Homo sapiens: one gene and its partners. The protein of the gene in region 3 purifies or fractionates together with the protein of the main gene of each other region. This does not show direct contact. Each region holds a gene or a part of one and is shown on either strand. Other genes may lie near its edges.

Region 1 (3,500 bases), on a different chromosome or scaffold from region 3:
GAGGCCTACCTTTCAGCTTCCCACAGCACCCAGGAACCTTAAGAGCTGCTGACCTGCTGGTGGGCCTGGCCAGAGCCTTCTCACCAGGCACAGCTATGCCTGGTCGTCAAGACAACCAACAGGCAGCCAGAACTACGGAAAATAAACTTTTTTATCTGGATTCCAGGACCCTTATCCTAACCTTTTACTTTACTATAGTACCTCTGCAACCTACGGGGCAGGAAAAAAAGGGAAGAAAAAATACTGGGGAAGAAAACACAGCACTGTTTGGCAGCTCCTTTGGCGCGCAGGAAACTGCCACCCCAGCCTTGGCTTCCTGGGGCCAGGTTCCAGATGTGTGTTGACAAACTGCAGCTTCGATCATCTCCGTGTGCCAGGATCTTGTGGCCGCGGCAAAGCACCTCCCCTATCTACTCTTGCAGCACTTACTGGCCTCCATTATAGGCATAATCAGCCTTGTTGTGCATTATCAGCTTGTTGTCAACAAAGTAGAAGCTGTCAGAGCGGGTCTCGTAAGGATTTTCAATCATTAGACGAACTGCAAGTCAGGCAAAGGGGGAAGAAAAAAGCAAAGAATTATGTTTGAGTCTGCCCCACAGGGTAGGTGGGAGAAAACTTTGCATCCCCTCCAAAATAAGCCAGCGCTTCAGAGTATACTCTGCCAGAATAACGATGAGGTCAGAACAGAGGGAGGCAGCCCTTGACAGCTGGGGAGACCACAGAGGCCCCCCAGCTGAACATGATCTCCATTTCAACATAAGGATGCAATCAACTCTCCACCATGGCCTCCTCTGTCATCTCCAGCCTGGATTCTTCAGCCAAGATACCAGGGAAATGTGCTCACCCCTCTTCCCAACATGGACCCCACCAACCTATTTACTCAGTGCTCTCAGCTGACCAAAGCCAGCCCTGGCCTCTGGTCAGTGGCCCACCTCTAGACATTCCACTCCAAATTCAGAAATCTGAGCCTCACTGTGCCCACCTCCACACACAACCCTGACAACCCAAGGAAACCTAGATTGGAATGAGTGCAAGGAACACAGGGCAGGGAGCCTTCTCCGGAGACCTTCTGGGTATTAACTCGCAAATGATTCAGCAATAGGTCTGCCTGTCTTGGGATCTAAAGTAAAGTCTTGTTTGTTCAGGCAATTGCCCAGACCTCTTTAACCATACTGGAGAGTAAAGATAATTAACAGTCACTACCTCTGATCAGTTTTGAGTTAATGATTACATGCCATTTTGAGTCTTTAACCATACTGGAGAATAAAGATAATACTACCTCTGATCAGTTTTGAGTTAATGATTACATGCCATTTGGAGTCCCCTGGAGGAAATGCTGTTGCTCACCACAGTTCTCAAAAAGTGAAACTGATTTTTTAAAGTTCTTTGAACCCACCAATGCCAAAACTACTCGGTTTATATGCATAATATTGCCCTCCAGGCTGATTTGGCTTCATGGGTAAAACTTATAACACTATACATCATCTTTTCTTGCAAGTATCTACATATTCTAGCCAGCTTGGGAAGAGGGGTTCAAGTCAGAACCAGATGCTGTCGTCAACACCCTGCCCCACATCTCAGCAATCCTCATTTTACCTGGGAACTGTACTGCCACACGATTAAAGGTTATCTGGTTTTCAGAATATGACAATTCTTAAGGACCTGGGATTCTGAGAGGACCAATCAGTGATGCCAGCAAGGCAACTACAGGCATCACTAGTCACAGGATTCTATTCACACCCTCATAAATGACTTGAATTTTCCCTAACTATTCACAAAGGATGCGAACCTGAGGTGGCTAGGCCAAAGTTGCAGAAACTGACAAGGGCTGTTCTTTCTCTCTCGTTTGGTCCCCATCTTCCCTTGCCGAGGCTACACGGCAGCAGCCTTCTCCCTCTGGTGCCCTCCCCAGGTCTAGGCCACTCTTCCTCAAACAGTATTTCCACCTTCTCACTCCTGCCCCAAAATCTACAACAGCCCCATTCCTTCCTGCTGGATCTATCTCAACACTTTATCCAATCAACTCTCTATCCTGCAGGGAATGGAAAAGAAGTCCTCTGGCCTTGATTCTATTTAGCCTGCAGTTTCACATCTAGCTCTGATTAAGAAAAAAGTGAAGGGCCAATGACTAAAACACAATGGAAAACCATGACTAACAGTGCACAGGAGAGGTGCTTTATCTGATCAGCGTCCCAGGGATGGTCACAGGCCTCCTTTTATCTCCCTTAGGCACTGTCTTCCCACAGGAGGCATCTAAAAGGATGGCCTGTATTATTAAAACCTTCAGACCGGCCGGGCGCAGTGGCTCAAGCCTGTAATTCCAGCACTTTGGGAGGCCGAAGCAGGCGGATCACGAGGTCAGGAGATTGGGACTATCCTGGCTAACACGGTGAAACCCCGTCTCTACTAAAAATACAAAAAATTAGCCGGGCATGGTGGTGGGCACCTGTAGTCTCAGCTACTCAGGAGGCTGAGGCAGAATGGCATGAACCCAGGAGGCAGAGCTTGCAGTGAGCCGAGATTGCGCCACTGCACTCCAGCCTGGGTGACAAGATCAAGACTCCGTCTCAAAAAGAAAAAAAAAAAAAACCTTCAGACTGAGCACAGTGGCTCACGCCTGTAATCCCCAGTACTTTGGGAGGATGAGGCAGGTGGATCACAGGGTCAGGAGTTCGAGACCAGCCTGACCAACATGGTGAAACTCTGTCTCTACAAAAAATACAAAAAATTAGCCGGGCATGGTGGCAGGTGCCTATAATCCCAGCTACTCGAGAGGCTGAGGCAGGAGAATCACTTGAACCCAGGAGACGGAGGATGCACTGAGCCAAGACTGCGCCACTGCACTCCAGCCTGGGCAATAGGGCAAGACTCCGTCTCAAAAAAAAAAGAAAAAAACAAAAGGGCCGGGGGCAGTGGCTCACACCTGTAATCCCAGCATTGTGGGAGGCCGAGGAGAGTGGATCATGAGGTCAAGTGTTCGAGACCAGCCTGACCAACATGGTGAAATCCCGTCTCTACTGAAAATACAAAAACTAGCCAAGTGTGGTGTAATCCCAGCTACTCAGGAGGCTGAGGCAGGAGAATCGCTTGAACCTGGGAGGCAGAGGTTACAGTGAGCCGAGATCGCGCTGCTGCACTCCAGCCTGGGCAACAGACAGAGCAAGACTCTGTCTCAGGGGAAAAAAACAAAAACAAAAACAAACAAACCCTTCATTGCTCCCATACGGGCCGAGTCAGAGTTTAGAACAGGAGCCAGGAGCAATAGGAAATGAGAAGCCTGAGGTCAAATGACTAGATACGCATCATGTCAGCACTGCCACGAGACAATGCCAGGGCGCTGGACCAGATGGGTTTCAAGGTTTGTTCCTTGTAGCCCTCAGAATCTAGAGTGCTGTAAGGGTCAGGGGATACATACTGACATCCTCCGAAAGCTGGGGAAACTCATAGATATGTTCACAAGTGTTCCTACTGCTGGGGATGCAGAAGCCAAAATCAAAGTC
Region 2 (3,500 bases), on a different chromosome or scaffold from region 3:
TGACACCCACAATTGTTGGAAAAAAGATTTGCTTTTAAAAAAAGTCTTAAATGTACTGTGGTTCCAAGGGGATTCTGAGGATCCCCCTCAGAATGTGTTGCCAAACACATGTTGTCTACTTCCCTTCTCTACTTCTTATTAGCTGTCACTTAATGATGTTACTATCTTTATTGTTCATCACTATGACCATATCACAACTTTCCTTAACCTGCTAAAATGAGCCATGACTTCCTTGAAACCACACCTTAGACAAGCTAACGCCAATGTTTATCTAACAGTTTCTTACTTCTATTAACTATGCTTCTCCTCATTAATTTTGCACCATCACAAATTATATTTCACGTTTCACTCCAAAAAGAGTAGTTTCATTTCACATTTTATTTATTTATTTTTTTTGAGACAGGGTCTCATTCTTTCACATAGGGTAGAGAACAGTGGTGCAATAATGGCTCCCTGCAGCCTCAACCTCTCGGCCTCAAGCAATCCTCTCACCTCAGCCTCATGAGTAGCTAGGACTATAGGTGTGCCCCAATATGTCCAGCTAAATTTTAAAAAATTTTTCTAGAGATGGGGTCTCAGTATGCTGCCCAGGCTGGTCTTGAACTCCTAGGCTCATGCAATCCTTCCACCTTGACCGCCCCAAAATGCTGGGATTATAGGCATGAGAGCCACTGTCCTGGCCTCATTTCACATTTTAAAAATCTTGCATATCTCTAAGATGATTTCTGTAACTAAGTGAAGGTGAAAATTCCTTAAAATATTCTTCCCTTGGCTTATAAACTAGGGCTTATACCACTGGGAAATTAATGAACGCTTATGTTAAATTAATGAACATTTATGAGTCGGCTGCAGTCATGTCATCAGTTTTTTTGTGGTTTTATCAGTTAGATTAAATCAGTGTAGTTTTATCAGTTAGATTTAATCACTTAGATTAAAACTTCTAAGAGTACAGGAGCTATGTCTGCTTAACTTTGCTTTCTATTGCCTAAGACCATCATATATATCTATTACAACTTAATAAATAAAAGTTTTCACCTTTAAAGTGGCCTGAGCACCTGGACTATCATCTTGACTACAAAGTACCAGTAGGGATTCCAGGCCAAAGACAGCATCTTGTTCCAGTGCCAAAAGATCTAGAAGAAAAACAGTAAACTTTATGATGGTCAAGTGATGTGTGTACAAACACACACACATATACATGCATACACACTCTCTTAGAAAAAACATTAAGGAGTTTAAGATATAGGGAATTATTAAATGGATGAACCTAACCTTCCTTGAAAAAGTACATGTGGCATTACTTCTAGAATGTAAAGTCTATCTTCAGACTTTATTTCTACCACTTTATTGAAGTATTTATAAAAATATACACATTAAATCAAGAGCTAAAGCCACAAAGCTATAAATAAAGCAAAACTGAAATAGTGTCACCAGCTTAGCTAAGGAAAATACTAAGAACAGCAAACTATGCAGTATGTGTTAATCTCCCTAATCAGAAATAAATTATGCAGGTCCATTTTTACCTAAGATATAACAGTTTTCAGCTTCTAATGAAAGCTGAACCACTTTTAGGAAATAATAAGGTCTCCACATAACCTTATTACTGTTTTAAGTCTGACCATAAAGAATGAACCTCTTAGATGTCTCATGAAATAGCAGCACTAGAACATCTTTTCACTACCATAGGGTTAAAATTTCTCTGAAGGTTTTAGAAAGTTCTGAATATATTAGTTACCTTTAGGTTAATATATTTCAGTGTTGAGAACATACAGCAGTTTTCTGTGTTACATGGAAGAAAATACTCTTTGTGATGCCAATATAAAACAGGCTTAATTATCCAAATCAGAATCAACTTTCAACTTTAAGAAATGTTTCCTGAGTGCAGGAGCTTGGCAAACAGAGTAAAGGCTAGTGAAGGTCAGGTTGCTAGAAAAAAACAGGTACTAGGAACAAGCAGTGCTGAAGGCTAGGGGGGATAAGAGGAACCACTGAGCTTGTAATCCTTAATGAAGATCAAAATCAGCACTGAAACAGATGGAATATCCAAAATGCATTTCTTGTTCTTGAACACAAGTCAAAAGATGTTAGGTAGACAACAAAATATGTGCATTATTTTCCTTGCATGTCCTCCTTGATTATGCAAGTCAGTTTAATGCCACATATACCTAGAGTAAATTCTGTGAAAATTTAATTCACATTGGTCTGTGAATTCACTTGCCTCTAGGTGAAACTATTTGTTATTTAAGTCCCTGGAGAACCTAAGTAAATTTTCTAGGTTTTTGTATAAGTGAACATACCACCTTATACAAAAGGGGTAGAGTCCTAAGCAATCTTTATCCACCATATATGCACCATATATGCAAAGGTAAGCAGTGGAAGGAAATGGGCAATGCTCCATAAAACCTTTCAATTCCACTCCCAAGGTCTTCATCTCTTTATTATTTTTCACAAGGATAAAGTAGTCTTAAGAACACATGCTCTAAGAACACTTTGAAAGGAGTCAATTTGTAGATCAAGGCACACAGGCTAAAAATAAGGGATTAAAAAAAAATCAAACAGAATTCTGTCCAAGGTCTAAACCAAAGTTTATACGTAATATCAGTCCTGATCAAACTTACCCTTTTCTTGACAAGAAACAGTTATATTAGTTAGGACTCTAACTCCATGAGCTGCAATGCCCCTGTTATTATGGTAACAGCACTCTTGGGCTAATTTGACTAAATCAGAAGATCTGGGAGAAGAACTCACATTTCCTAAAAAAGCAGAGAAAAGTAGTAGAAATTGTAATTCAAATAGTTCAAAAGCAGTTCAGCTCATAGGTTCAATTTTCTTAATTTTTGAGAAAAGTCTCTAACAATAAACTTCAACAAAATTTCCTACCACAATCCCACTATCAATACATATCAGCATTTCTCTCCATTAAGGTACTTGAAATAGGTATGTGCCAACAGTTTCGTAATGACTAAGATCTAAAATCAACGTATAATTTCTTAAAAAATATTAATAAAAATTGACTAACAGTACAAAAGCCAAAACAACTATCCTAAGAGTTCAAATGAATTCTGATTAAAACAGGTATCATTATAGGCCTCTTGTCAGACAAAACCATACTTTCAAGATAGGAGAGAAAAGAGAAAAAAATTTAAATTTGCTTTTTTTTTCCATCTCAGATTGCTGACACACATTTATACCTCATATGAATTCGTGATTGTAGAGCTGGAAAGAATTTTGGGATCATCTGATTTAACACACCCTATTTTTACAGGTGGAATCAAAGCCCAAAGCCCCAAAATTTTAAGAATCTTGCCATTAAGTTCATAAAACTTATCAGTCATGTTCTAATGCCCCTGTTATTATACTCTTCTGCTTTATACCTTAAATTCCATGCTATAGATTGCAGCAATTTTTAAAATTCACATTTGAAATTCTGGAATGCAAGGTTCATGTTGTAACTATTGTAATTTACAGTAGAGAAGCCCTCAGTTATAACTGAATAAGCT
Region 3 (3,500 bases):
TCTCACTTGAGAGGCCACACGTACTTGGATGTGCCAGAAGGCCAGGACAGCCACCACCATCGCAGTTGTGGTACGGCCCTGGCCGCTGAGGCAGCTGAACACGAAGCCAGTGCCTGGGTCCTTGGAGAGGGCGGCCCGCAGGGCCTCCAGCAGCTGGTCAAAGTCCTGGACGAGAAAAGCAAGGTCTGGGTCAGCGGGCGTCTCTTGGATGCACAAACCCCAACAGGGTCCCCATCCACATGGCAGCCCCAGCCACTGTCCTCGGGCCAGAAATTGTCAGGCTCCCAAGCTTGCACACACAAACAAAACTCACCGGGGTGCATGAGACCATGTGCGTGTAAACAGCTGCACCTGTGCAGTCGTAATCACCCTCACACCAAGCACCTGGACAGGATGTGTGAGCCAACACAGCATGCACCTGGGGCTCAAGGTACCCACCCTCCATCAGGCAGGACATGCACCTGTATGTCACCCCTGTGTACTGCGCCCCTGGGCTGCACATAGACTGCTGGCCCTGCCACCCACCTGAGCTGGACCCAGCCCTGGTCCCACCATGGACGGGGGCCTGACCTCAGAAGAGCCCTGCAGCACAAGGCCACCAGGAGGCAGCAGACCGCAGGCAGTGAGAGCCGCGAAGAGATGCGCCAGGAGGGGCTCAGGCAGGGTAACAGACCCCATTGCCAGTTACACAGCACACAGCGACCCACCTACAACACACGCACCACGCACACGGTGGCTCACCTACAACACACGCCAGACACACGCACCACACAGGGATCCACGTCCGGTAAACACACACACTATACAGACACCCACAGTCACAGACCTACAGATGCCACACACACACATTCCTAACGACCCCTCCACAAACCCTACCACACACCACACCACTCCCCTAAAGATGGTTTTCCACACACAGCCCCCAATACAGACAAGGGAGACATCACAAACTCCATAAAAAGACATGCACACACACACACATTCCACACACCACCCACACACTCCATACACAGTCCCCCAACTGAGACACACACACCACGGACACCCTGGACATGTTCACCCTCAACACACACACACACCTTATAACAAATACACACACACACCTGTAACAGAATACACACACACCCCGATAACACACACACACCTATAACACACACCCATAACACAATACACACACATACACCCTACAACATAATAAACACATGTACACACATCTTATAACACATATGCACATACGTAACAGAATACACACTCCAATACACACACACCTATAACAATACACACACATATACCCTATAACACATAATAAACACACGTACACACACACAAAGCTTGGAAGGAATGTGAATAAACCACTTGGGCCAAATCGGAAAACCTCGTGAGACCATTCCCGGGCCCCGTAGAGAAGCTGGGGTCGTTTCATTCTCCCAGAGCCCAGACCAGAGGGGAGACAGGGAGGCCTCCTGTCCCTCCCCAGAGGCCTCAGCCTGAGCAGCACCCTCACCTCCTCTCGGGGGGCACAGAAGTCCGGCATGGGGATGCGGTGGTAGGTGAGGCCAGGACAGGCCCTGCGGTGCTGGCTGAAGACCTCCTGCATGGTAAGGCAGGTCTGGAACCTGTAGGTCAGGGGGCCCTCCTTGCCTGGGGGAGGCTCGCTTAGATGGGCCTTCAGCTGGGCCTCCAGGGTCTGGGCAAGGGCAGGAGGGAGGACACAGGCCACTGGGGCAGGCTCTAGGCTAGCCCTGAAAGGCCACAGCCTGCCATGGCCAGGCCTGGCCCTGGCTTCCAGTCCCATCCCTGACCCCCCCAAGCCTCAGGGGTCACAGCCACCCCCCAAAGCCAAGCAGGTTAGCAGAGCACTTTAGTGGGAATCCTGAGTTGGCCACTCCCTGACACTGCTCCTCCCGGGGCCTCAGATTCTCCATCTGTCTGCGGGAGTGTGAGGCCTTCTGAAGACCCTCCCAGGCCACTCCCCAGAAGCCTCGGAGGCAGGGGTGCCTAGAGGGCAGGGGGCCTCACCTCCAGCTGGTCAGGAGCCACAGGGGGCCCAGGCCACCGCAGGCTGTAGGTGTGCCCGTCACACTCCAACACGGCCTCCTCCCGAAGGCTCACCCAGACAACCTTCCGCAGCCTCCTCTTGGCGTCCGTCAGGTAGGCCAGGATGCTCCCCAGGGCCTGGGCACAGGAGGGCCGGCAGTGAGTGCTCAGCCCTCCCTCCCCAAACCCACTGGGGGACCCAGGCCCTGAGGGCCGGTCACCTTGGCGCTGGGCTGGGCCGTGCCGTAGATGGGCATGCGGGGCACCCGCCGGAAGTTGGCCACATCCATCTCTCTGACAGTGCTGAGCGCGTCCGGGGAGACCAGATCGTCCTCCCGCTGTGGGGAGAGCACCAAGCCTGGGACCCACAGCAGCCGACTGTAGCCGCAGAAAGGGTCAGGACCTGGCCCAAGGCAGACGGGGGGTGGGGTGGAACCCGAGCTTCACAGTTTACAAAGCACTCCTGCACACTTGGAGCTTCCCCCGGCCCTGGCAAGAAGAAGTGCAATGGTGCCCACTCTCTGGACCAGGAAGCTGAGGCTCAAAGAGAAGAAGCTGGAGGCAAAGATCATAGAACCCTGCCCAGAGCTCTTGGGTTTGAGACTGAGGAGAAGGTACCAGAACAGCTGCCAAAGCTGCAAATGCTTGCTGGGGCCTAAGCATGACCCCATTCTGTTCACAAGAGGATCCCAACACCCACAGCCTCTCTTCTTCACCTCCTGCAAGGGCAATGCTTACCCCAACCCTACAGGAATCCAGTGTTTAGGGGCCAGGGCCAGTACACAGCCATGCCCACTTCTCCGACTGCCAGTCATACTCACTAGGGAGCCCCTGGCGATGAGGTCCCTCGGAGCCACAGGGCCTGCTGAGCTCAGCGTCACGGGCAGGCGGTACAGCTCAGGGTGGGCACACAGCCAGCGGCTGAAACTGAGGGCAAAGGCCAGCGGGTACTGCAGCCCGAGGCAGAGAGACGAGGAATTCAGGGGCACAGGGCCATCCTGAACCCTCCCTGCCCACACCATGGCAGGGGAAGCCCCAAAAGATATCCAACATGGCCCAGAGCAGGGACAAGGGAGTGGCTGAGAGAAGACCTGGACGTCTGGTGTCCTGGTTAAGGACAGAGACAAGGGCCCGGTGGAAAGAGGTGGGGCCTCCCTATGCCCAGCTGCTCAGGGACTACTCCCGAATCTGGGTCTCTCCTGGCCTCCCTTCCCTCCCCGGTTCCTTGGGGGGTCTCCCTCCACAGCAAGCCAGTCACTGCGGTGGGGAGGCTGGGAGAGGCCCAGGAGGAGGGGACGTGGGTCTGCTCCTCCCAGGCCCCACCTGCTCATGAAGGTAGTAGTTAAACAGGATCAGGTAGAAGTATCGCTCCAGGCTCCACAGCGCCCTCTGCCAGACGCTGTGTCGGCTGCCGCTTCCCTGAGAGAGAGGACAGGGTGTTAAGGACAGACTCCTCAGGCAGT
Region 4 (3,500 bases), on a different chromosome or scaffold from region 3:
ACTCCCACATGCTTAGCGTTCCAATAATGGAACACTAGGCATAAATACATTAACCCATTTTTAACCCCCAAATTAAGACACTAATTTAACAAAACTGATAAACATTTAAGTACGATTCCAGATAGAGACCATGTGGGTTTTACTTCTAATCTGAGAACAGAGGAAGTGAGCATAAAGTAATCCACTTTTAACTTGTAATCAGCACAATGCCTTGTCTAATGGTAGCACAGCCATCAATAGTATAGGAATCCATTTCCAGCTGTAAAAACCTCAGAGACCACTAGAGTTCCACTGTATAAAGTTGGATTTACAATCAAAATGGATTATCTCCCAATTCTTTCCTTGGAAGAATTTCTGTTATCCTAAGGTATGATCAATCATTATACCAGCATTCTATGAACAAGCACACTGGGCTGGACACAGTGGCATACACCTGTAGACCTGTAGTCCCAGCTACTTATAAAGCTGAGGCAAGAGGATTACTTGAGTCCAGGAGTTCGAGATCAGTCTAGGTAACATAGCAAGACCCCTTCTCTTTAAAAAAAAAAAAAAAAAAAGCACACTGATTTATTATTAGCAAATACTTTAGAAAATGTGAAATGATTTGGTTTTTCATTAAAGGTTGCCATGGAAAAATAAACACTGGGGATTACACATGGGGGGATGGTGTAAGGGAAACATGGGATGTAAAATTACCTATTGGGTACTATGCTCACTACCTGGGTGATGGAATCATTCACACACCAAACCTCAGCAACATGCAATTTACCTATGTAACAAACCTGCACATGTACTCCCTGAACCTAAAATAAAAGTTGAAAAAATAAAGAGTTGCCTTGGGTAAAAAATGGAACAAAAGGAGTACACCAAAAACATAAGAATATCCTCTATAACAGATGTGGCAAAGCCTCACATAAAGTCAAGTCTCACAAAGGAAGAACAAAGGCAGCAAATGGTCTAGAGCACTTGTTCTGGGATACCTCTTGGCCCCAAATCTCACAGAGATTGTGATTTGAAGAACGAAGCTCCAAAAGACCAAATATTCAGTGTGAAACTAATTTTTAAGAAGAGGCTACCAGTTCATCAGAATTTTGGAACATACTTGCCTTAGATATTTCAGTAAGGCTATCATAATTCATTTACACTCTACAGAATAAATTGTTTCTTTTCATAATAAATATCACATTTGCATAATAATTTAAGGACTTACCTCCCATAATCGAAGAATATCTAGAAAACTAAATTCCCTTTTGAATCTGATTAAAAGCCACCTGAAGCAAAAATAAAGGTATCCAGAGTCCTGAGATTCTATGCAGAAGAAAAAAACACACATATGACTTACTCTTATGCTAATTATGTCAGAATACAGTTACTTTTCTCTAACTTTCCTATGCATCTTAGGCAATTCAAGGCCCTATACATTTGTCTTCTACGTTAAGGAATCATTTCAAACTTGAAGGCTGACTTCTTTTTAAAAACTAACAAATAATACATTTTACGAATCAAGTTTAAGGCAGAATTATACAAAGAGAGTTTGGTTCCACATTTTTATGGAACCGAAGAAAGTGCAATAGAGTATATATGTCTTTAAGTTCTTTTTTATTGAGACAGTGTCTTGCTATGTCACCCAGGTCGGAGTGCAGTGGAGTGATCCCAGTTCACTGTAGCCTCAACCTCCTCGGCTCAAGTAATCCTCCCACCTCAGCCTCTTGAGTGGCTGGGACTACAGGCATGCATCACCACAGCCAGCATTTTTTTTTCCTTGTAGAGATGGGGTCTCACTGTGCTAGCCAGGCTAGTCTCAAACTCCTGGGTGCAAGTAATCCTCCCTCCTTGGCTTCCAAAGTGCTGGGATTATAGGCATGAGCCACTGCACCTGGCTTCTTTAAAGAGTTCTTTACATTTTTTTCTATGCATTACTCTACAATTTGCTGGGTATAGTTCTGATTCACTAAACTTACCTAAGTAACTGCAAAATCCACTGTCTAACAATCGAAGTAAGGTACTCAGCTGAATTAGCTGGGTCTTCATGCCTTGCATTTGTTCTTCAAAATTCTGATGCTTTAAAAGGAAATAATTGTTACAAGTAATATTTAATAAATATTTTATAGTACATAATGACTGATAACTAAAACATGATGTCTAAGGACAAATGCTGAACTTATACCACACTGGTAATCTTAAAAAATGCGTAACTAACCAAAAATCTAACGTAACACTAAAAGGGAGGGTAAAGAGAAAGAATCCTTGCTCTCAAAACTAAGGATTATTTTTTCCTCTATTCATTTGACTTAGATAAAGAAGAATGCAGACATAGCAACTGCAGACTGACTATTTATTTCTTACACAGCATAAAAGACTTGGTGAAAGAAACACACATTTGGGAAATAAATATTTATCAAATTCTTTCCATTGTTAAATATTCCTTCAAATTATACATAATAAAATTAATTTTAGTTTTAGTATGTATTTCATTTTAAAGAATTACTTTACATTGGAGAATCTGTAAAGCCAAAACCATTTTCAGGACAATACTAAAACATTATCTGGATTTCATACTTAAATTCTTTCACAAGTGCAAAGGCTGTATGATGTGTGATACTCCAAAAGACTGAACACAGAAGCAAATATGAAAATTCAGCTGTCTTCTATTAAACCAGACATTTTTAAAAATGAAAAATTTAAAACAATCTCTTGTGTCGGTAAATTTTTCATTAGGAAAGGTTACTTTTCATTAAAAAAAAGTGATCTATGTTAAGGTAGAATGTGTTGTTATTTAATGAATTAATAAATAAATGAATACAAGTTTCTCAGTATTAATTTTTCACATAAACATCAACAGATATAACCCACATAAACAAAAACTCTTTCAGGTCTTCAATAATATTGGAGAGTGTGAAGGGGCCCTGAGGTCACAAAGTTTGGGAACTGCTGGGGTTCATATGCTTTAAAGAAACTTCATAGTTGAGTAGACTCCCTACCAACACCTGAGTCAAGGGGCCAGAAGGCACCAAAACTGATGCTCTGAAAGGCTTCTTAAATGATTTGGATCCCTTTAACTCATATGTCCCGATCCCTCTGTGGTAACCTACCGCCCTAACCCTAGTGAAAGCCTTAGAAAAACATTTCCTCCTTCACACTTACTTTTTCACTTTTACAGTACAATAGTGCTTTATTAGAACTATCATATTAGAAACAATTCATTCTTAAAAAAAATTTAAGTCTATTAATTCTCAATAAGCTGTTTCTCTTTAATGAATTTTAAAAACCAGTTTATTAATAGACTAACTCAAGGCTTTAGGATATAGTTCCTCCACATTTACCAGAGAGATCTATAGAGAAGGGGCAGAATCAACTCTGATTAACAGGATCATTTTTGCTGTGACACAGTCAAAGACTAGAGCTGATCTGGGAATACCAACATGGCATAGACATTTGCTACCCACTCTGCTGTAAAAAAGAAACATGTCCATAATGACAGACACCATATTCGAAAAAGT
Region 5 (3,500 bases), on a different chromosome or scaffold from region 3:
GCCTGCCTGGACCTGTTGCCTCACCCCAAGAGAGCCACAGGCAATGCAAAGGCTCCTGTTCATGTCAGGGCACCTGGAAGGCCTGACTTGCAGAGGCTCTTGGCTCGTGCAGACCCCTCCAAGCCCAGGCCCTGCCCACCACCTCCCCTTTGTCTCTGGAACTGCCAGGACAGCTTGTCCTCAGCCAGCAGGTTTCCCGACCCGGGCACCTCTTCATGTTGGGCCCCCCTCCTTTCCCTCCATCAGGGATCATGCCCTTCTTCAGGGGCCTGGATATCAAGGACACAAAAGCTCCCATGTGCTATGTGGGGAGGCAGAGTGGGGGCTGGGTTGAGCTGGGGTCTGGGCAGCGCCATTCCGCAGGGCAGGGGCAGCCTAGGCTTCCCATCTGTGGAATGGGTGGGTGGGTCTCACAACGGACCTGCTTCCCGTACTTCAGCACGGTTACCACTCTTGATTGGAACTCTGACCATGCATCTCCTCTTCTGTTTACTTCACGCTTTCTCTTCCCATCAACTCCCATTTTAATTACAATTTGTTTAAAAGCACTGCATATTACTTCATTAAACAGAAGATTAGTTTCACTTACCATTAGTGTAAGGTGACTATAGAACCAAAGCAGACTGGAAACCAAATGACATAATGTCATTCTCTTCTCCATTCCAGCTGCCTGCTGCTGTGCGCCTGAGAACCCCTGTGGAGTGGGAGGGGCAGCTGTCTCTGTACATTAGAAAGGGAGGTTAACTAAGTGACAGGAGGTGTTTGGGACATGTGGACACCAGACTTCTCTCTTGATGCAAGGAGGGCAGAGCCAGGCAGCCTAGTGGGGGCTGGCTTGGGGGCTGCTGGAAGGACTGGCTACAGGTGGAAGAGAGGTCAGACCTGAAGCTTGGGGCCACCTCCAGGAAAGGACAGGTGAAAGTGGAGGCATGAGGCAGGGGAGAGGCAGGTGCCAGGCAGAGGGTGGAGAGGAGGCAGGAACATAGCAGCTGGGGCGGGGGCGGGCCTCAAGTGTCATATGCTACTTTCCTGGGGCCCAGGGGCAAGGACAGGAACAGCCACAGCATGTGTTGGGACAGAGCCCTGTGCCTTCCTAGAGCTGGGCAGGTGGAATGGGGCAGGAATGGGACTCGTGGTGGCTGCAGCAGGAACTGGAGGGGAAGGGGCTTCTGGATCCTGCAGCCTACCTTCCTAGAGGCCAGCTTTCCGGGGTCCACCAGGTGGGTGGGAACTGGGCTTGTGTAGCAAGACTGCCCTGAGGACCATCCATGACATGGTCTAGATGAAAGTTAGGAAAGAAAGGGAGACAAGCTGGCAGCAGAAGTACAGCTGGGTCAGGAGCAAGGGCCTTTCCAGATAGGGACAACCCAAGAGTGCACATGTGCCCACGCCACACAACACAGGCACACACGACACGTGCACGCTCATAGGCACTGCACACACACATGCACAGGTGCTCATGCATATGTATGAGCTTCATCTACACACATTCACATGCCGTCCTGCTTATGTGCATGTTTCCATACATGCACATGAATGCACAATCACGTGTACACACATGCATGTGATCACATACATGAACATGTGTGCACCCCACTCCTCAGGTGCCATCGGGCTCCTCCTGCTGTCACTGTGCAGCAGGGGACATGAGGCCCCAGAGCAGACAGGTGCAGCACAGGCGTTCCCAGGCAGTGCCCCACACACATGCATGAGCACACCCGGGCATGTGGCGCCTCCTTTGTGGACTCAGTCACCTGCCAGGTGGGCTCCCTGGTGGTGTGAGCTCCCAGAGGTCTGGCGAGAGAGATAAAGGCAACCCCACCACCAGGCGTGCTGAGAATTCCCTCTTCTGGCTGGGCACAGTGGCTCATACCTGTAATCCCAGCACTTTGGGAGGCCGAGGTGGGCAGATCACTTGAGGTTAGGAGTTTGAGACCAGCCTGGCCAATATGGTGAAACCTCATCTCCACTAAAAATATACACACACAAAAATTAGCTGGGTGTGGTGGTGTGCACCTGTAGTTCCAGCTACTCGGGAGGCTGAGGCAGGAGAATCGCTTGAACCTGGGAGTCAGAGACTGCAGTGAGCCGAGATCATGTCACTGCACTCCAGCCCGGGTGACAGAGTGAGACTCCATCTAAAAAAAAAAAAGAATTCCCTCCTCTGGGAATTTAGACCACAGACAGGTTGCATGTATGTGGCCGTTGGAGGCAGCACTCACAGCAAAGAGTGGAAACGTCACCACAGGGCCTGCCTTCTGGTGAAAATGGTGTCCTGCAGGGCGGGCAGCTGTTTGAGGGCAGGTGTCCCAGGTGCGGCCTGCAGCAGCCTGAGGGTCACAGAGCGCAGTGCTGGGAGTGCAGAGACTTCCCCCACAGGGAGAGTTCCCAGGAACCTGCTTCCGGTGCACTTCTGGGGGTTTGAGTTTTTTCCACGGACGAATTACTTTGAGAAACCACTGTTACTCGTGTGTATAGGTGAGCGTGCGTGTGCATGTGTGTTCTGTGTGTGAGTGTGCATGTATGTGCGTGCCTGCGTATATATCCTCGCAGATACGGCTAGGGACCTCACTCAGGACAGTAGTTCTGCCTGAGGAGAGTGAATGCGGCAAGATTGAGGAGAACACAGGCATCTTCAAACTACATGTGCGGTGCTTTATTTCTTTAAAAATGCGTCTAAAGCAAATAGGAAAATGTTAAGATTTGAATCCGTAGAGTGTGGGTTCTATTATTCTCTCCACATCTTCCATACGTTTAAAATCTTTTGCAATGAAAATAAGCTGTAGTTAAAGCAGCAATGCAGGCTGCCAGTGAGCGCCCCGGAGGCCAGTGAGGACCAGCATGGCTGGGTGGCCTGTTGGAATCCAAGGGGGGCGGGCAGGAGCTGCAGGCAGGCGCCCGGGAGTAGCCCGGGCATGGGGGTGCGGGGCAACAGGGATGTCTGCAGGGGTAGCATGTGGGCCCCGGACTGCAAGCAGGTGGAGCCAGCCGGATGCGGCTCCTATGAGAAAAGCGGGGAACAAGAGACCACGCTCGTTCTTCCTGCTGCGGGGACAGCCCTGGTCATCGCTCCGGGGAACCCTGCAGCCTGCGCCGCACGTGGCCGCCCCCTGCTGCTTCCTCCTCCCCGGCCTCCGGGTGGCCTTGCTGACGGCTCCTTCTCTGAGGCAGGTCTCTGCCTTCTCGCCTGGTGCCTGCACTCAGTAGCCCCCTCACCAGAGCTGCTGGGTGAAGGAAGCACTAAGAACCCAAGGCTCGGGAGGAGAGTGGGGCCGGGAAGCTGCAGGGAAGCGCAGGGCCAGGCCTGGTGGGCCCAGGGGCTGGCTCACGGGAGGGCAGGAGGGAGACTGTGGCGGACAGCACGTGGGGCCAGGAGGTGACCTCCAAGTGGATTGTGGGTGGGTTTTTTGTCCTCTTTCTGCATTTTCCAGGCATTTTGTAATGTGGATAGAATATTTCTGTTCTTCAAAAATACTTTAGTTAAGAAAAATAAGATGGAA
Region 6 (3,500 bases), on a different chromosome or scaffold from region 3:
TACAATTTGATATCTTTCCTAAAATCCTATAATTCTGGAAGGGTTTCTGCCAAAAAATTTTTTTGACCAACCTCTTGCAGAGAAAGTACTAGAATCAGGTCTTACAGATACAAAGGCAACAATGAATTAAAAAACAGTTTAGTGAGACAAGTCAAATTGAATGGTAAAGTGTTTTAAGTATTTGTAAATTATGCTAAGCCTCCGGCACCTCCTAATCTGTATCTGGAATATAGAAGGCCAAGTCATTGACCTCTTTTAGTCTACACTTAGATAACAGCTTTAGAGACTACAGGAAGGCCTAGAAATAATCATTAATTTATTATGTGCTTGCAGCATTATGCTGAAGACATAATACTGAACAAGATACAAAATACTGCCCTTAAGCAGCTTTGTTTAATCGACGAGAAAGACAAGTGTATATGCACTATGACAGGTGAAGAGCTATGGAAGCACTCAGGTGGAGACCCAACCTAGACTTCAGTGATGAAGGAAAGTATTTTAGAAAAAGTAATATCTAATATCTGCTTCCAGTTGCTTGCTCTCTAAATTAGCCTACACACTACTACTAGACTAAGCTTTTAAAAACTGGTATGCCTATCATGGTACACTGTTACAAAACCTTTGATGTTTCCTAATACTTCTAGGATAAAGTCTCAAATTCTCTAACCTCTCCCTATGCTATCCTCCTCTCCTCTTTATTTAGTTACATTGTCCTTACTTCAAGGCTCAGACCGGATCTCAGCTCCTCAGAGCAGCATTTCTTCCATAGCCCTAGCCCTGACAACCTGAATTCCTGTAGCACCTATTACACATATATTTGCCACATATTTGCCTCTTAGCACATACAATTAAAAAATTTTGAGGGTTCACTCTGTGCCAGCCTTGTGTGAGACAGTGGAGACAAATACAGCATAGTCCTTGATTTCACAATTTGATTGGGAGACAGTGTTTAGATCTTCCACATCATATATTCTAGAGTCCCAACAAGATCTACTGAGTACCCTGTGTGAGGTAGTTCCATTATCAGGTACTAGGGAAATGGAGATAAAAGATGCAGTGTATGCTCTAAAGAGGAGTAAAGGAGATAAACTAGCAACCAAAAAAATCACAGTAGATTATAAGTAGCGTCACAAAAGAATTAGCACAGGGGGCAATGGATGCTTTGAGGAGAGATAAAAAGTTAGGAGGGCAATGCGAAAAGGCCTGGAAGTGGCTCCAAAATTGGAATCATTAACAGACTGATTGATGAATTAGCAGGGTGAAGATGTGAAAGCTTCTAAATTTCAAAGGAGAAGAGACCATGTCTTATGCCTCTGTGTAATCCCTACATCTCAGAGTACAAAGAATATGTTTGTTGATGCTTAGGAAGAATGACCCTAAGCCTTCTAGGTCCACCCCAATCAAGACTTAAAGAGTATGCAACAAGAATGACTAACACCACTCTGAAATGTTGTTTAAAATTTATTTTAAGGGTTGGGCATGGTGGCTTACGCCTTAATCCCAACATGTTGGGATGCCAAGGCAGAAGGACTGCTTGAGCCTAGGAGTTTGAGACCAGCCTGGGCACAAAGCAAGACCCTGTCTCTATCAAACAAACAAACAAACAAACAAACAAACAAAATTAGTTGGGCATGGTGGTGTGCGCCTGTAGTCCCAGCTACTTGGGAGGCTGAGGTGGGAGGATTCCTTGAGCCCAAGAGTTCAGGGTTGCAGTGAGCTATGATCATGCCACTGCATTCCATCCTTGGTGACCGGGCAAGACCCTGTCTCAAACATACATACATACACACACACACATTTAAAGAAAACAAACAAAAAAATCCAAAGAAATAAAAACCTCTTTTAAATGTACACATACAGCCATAATACAAGTTCCTTTTAAAATCAATTATGAGAAATACTAACCATTAACATGGTTAGGTTTAGTTGTTTTATTAGCAGTATTTTGAAGAGGCAAGCTTATCCTCACCTAAGGTAATGTCCTGTTTAGGAGGTTCATCAGAGCCTCACTATAATCTGAAAGCAGTATACCCCAAGTAAGTGCAAGATGTTATAGATTTAATCTGCAAATATTTAGTGACTAGTATGCCACAGTAGCTAGCATTTATGGGCCACCAACATATTCTAATCGTTTTTCATTTTTATTTACTAAAAAAATTTTTTTTGTAGAGATGGGGTCTCACCATGTTGCCTGGGCTGGTCTCAAACTGCCAGGCTCAAGTGATGCTCCCAACTTAGCTTCCCAAAGTGCTGAGATTACAGGCATAAGCCACCACACCGGGTCTCATTTTTTCTTAAAGAAAGAGCTAGTAGGGCCAGGTGCGGTGGCTCACACCTGTAATCCCAGCACTTTGGGAGGCTGAGGCGGGTGGACCACCTGAGGTCGGGAGATTGAGACCATCCTGGCTAACACAGTGAAACCCCATGTCTACTAAAAATACAAAAAATTAGCCGGGTATGTTGGCACATGCCTGTAATCCCAGCTACTTGGGAGGCTGAGGCAGGAGAATTGCTTGAACCCAGGAGGCAGAGGTTGCAGTGACCAGATCTCCCCACTGCACTCCAGCCTGGGCAACAAGAGCCTGGGCAAAAAAAAAAAAAAAAAAAAAAAAAAAAAAAAAAAAAGAGCTAGTACTTTATTAGTGCTTGATTGTTTTCAAAGAATTTGTATATAAAGTAAGTCCTCACTTAACGTCATTGGTAGGTTCTTGGAAACTGACTTTAAGTGGAACTATTCAGAGCAGCTCCTCCAACAACGTTGTTTCGATGTCCTTTCATTACAACGTAGATGAGAAAAAAATTGGTTTCATTATACACTTCACTTAAAATCGTAGTTTCCAGGAACCTATTGATGACCAGGAACCTATTGATGACGTTGAGGACTTACTGTATATCTCATCTGATCTTTATAAAAATCTTATTATTTCTCACTTAATAAATGATGAAATAGAGATGAAGATAAGTTATAGTGATTTGTCTAAGGTCACACAGTTGGGATGGGTGTCCATGTCTAGCTGTTTTCCCCTCCATCTGGGTTATGCTGCCCTTTAGGGCCACCTTTGTGAAAAGGGACCTCTTATTAAATTACTCCCAGGGCAGAATGGGAGAAAAAGCTACGAAAAGACTGAATATTTCTTTTTTTTCTTTTCATTTTTTTTTTTGAGACGGAGTTTCGCTCTTGTTGCCCAGGCTGGAGTGCAATGGCATGATCTCGGCTCACCACAACCTCCACCTCCCAGGTTCAAGTAATTCTCCTACCTCAGCCTCCCGAGTAGCTGGGATTACAGGCATGCACCATCATGCCCAGGTAATTTTTTGTACTTTTAGTAGAGATGGGGTTTTTCCATGTTGGTCAGGCTGGTCCTGAACTTCTGACCTCAGGTGATCCACCTGCCTTGGCCTCCCAAAGTGCTGGGATTACAGGTGTGAGCCACCACGCCTGGCCAAGACTGAATATTTTTTGGATTCTATAATGATATTTTAAAAATCTGCTTCAAAAG

The links.
Region 1: the proteins of PALD1 (region 3) and UNC119B purify together in Homo sapiens (co-immunoprecipitation; 2 studies listed by BioGRID and IntAct, with this or other methods). This does not show direct contact.
Region 2: the proteins of PALD1 (region 3) and INTS7 purify together in Homo sapiens (affinity purification with mass spectrometry; one large-scale study listed by BioGRID and IntAct). This does not show direct contact.
Region 4: the proteins of PALD1 (region 3) and TBC1D15 purify together in Homo sapiens (co-immunoprecipitation; one large-scale study listed by IntAct). This does not show direct contact.
Region 5: the proteins of PALD1 (region 3) and CAMK2B purify together in Homo sapiens (affinity purification with mass spectrometry; one large-scale study listed by BioGRID and IntAct). This does not show direct contact.
Region 6: the proteins of PALD1 (region 3) and IKBIP purify together in Homo sapiens (co-immunoprecipitation; one large-scale study listed by IntAct). This does not show direct contact.

Annotation. Positions count from the first base shown.
Region 1 is NC_000012.12:120,716,958-120,720,457, reverse strand, and holds part of UNC119B (protein unc-119 homolog B), read right to left. Parts: coding exon 3,416-3,500; intron 539-3,415; coding exon 426-538; 3' UTR 1-425. UniProt on the Homo sapiens protein: Myristoyl-binding protein that acts as a cargo adapter: specifically binds the myristoyl moiety of a subset of N-terminally myristoylated proteins and is required for their localization.
Region 2 is NC_000001.11:211,980,058-211,983,557, forward strand, and holds part of INTS7 (integrator complex subunit 7), read right to left. Parts: intron 2,754-3,500; coding exon 2,619-2,753; intron 1,134-2,618; coding exon 1,036-1,133; intron 1-1,035. UniProt on the Homo sapiens protein: Component of the integrator complex, a multiprotein complex that terminates RNA polymerase II (Pol II) transcription in the promoter-proximal region of genes.
Region 3 is NC_000010.11:70,537,767-70,541,266, reverse strand, and holds part of PALD1 (paladin), read right to left. Parts: intron 3,457-3,500; coding exon 3,361-3,456; intron 2,988-3,360; coding exon 2,859-2,987; intron 2,376-2,858; coding exon 2,259-2,375; intron 2,176-2,258; coding exon 2,020-2,175; intron 1,688-2,019; coding exon 1,505-1,687; intron 166-1,504; coding exon 25-165; intron 1-24.
Region 4 is NC_000012.12:71,916,259-71,919,758, reverse strand, and holds part of TBC1D15 (TBC1 domain family member 15), read right to left. Parts: intron 2,062-3,500; coding exon 1,962-2,061; intron 1,309-1,961; coding exon 1,211-1,308; intron 1-1,210. UniProt on the Homo sapiens protein: Acts as a GTPase activating protein for RAB7A. Does not act on RAB4, RAB5 or RAB6.
Region 5 is NC_000007.14:44,221,095-44,224,594, reverse strand, and holds part of CAMK2B (calcium/calmodulin-dependent protein kinase type II subunit beta), read left to right. Parts: intron 1-3,500. UniProt on the Homo sapiens protein: Calcium/calmodulin-dependent protein kinase that functions autonomously after Ca(2+)/calmodulin-binding and autophosphorylation, and is involved in dendritic spine and synapse formation, neuronal plasticity and regulation of sarcoplasmic reticulum Ca(2+) transport in skeletal muscle.
Region 6 is NC_000012.12:98,627,789-98,631,288, forward strand, and holds part of IKBIP (inhibitor of nuclear factor kappa-B kinase-interacting protein), read right to left. Parts: intron 1-3,500. UniProt on the Homo sapiens protein: Target of p53/TP53 with pro-apoptotic function.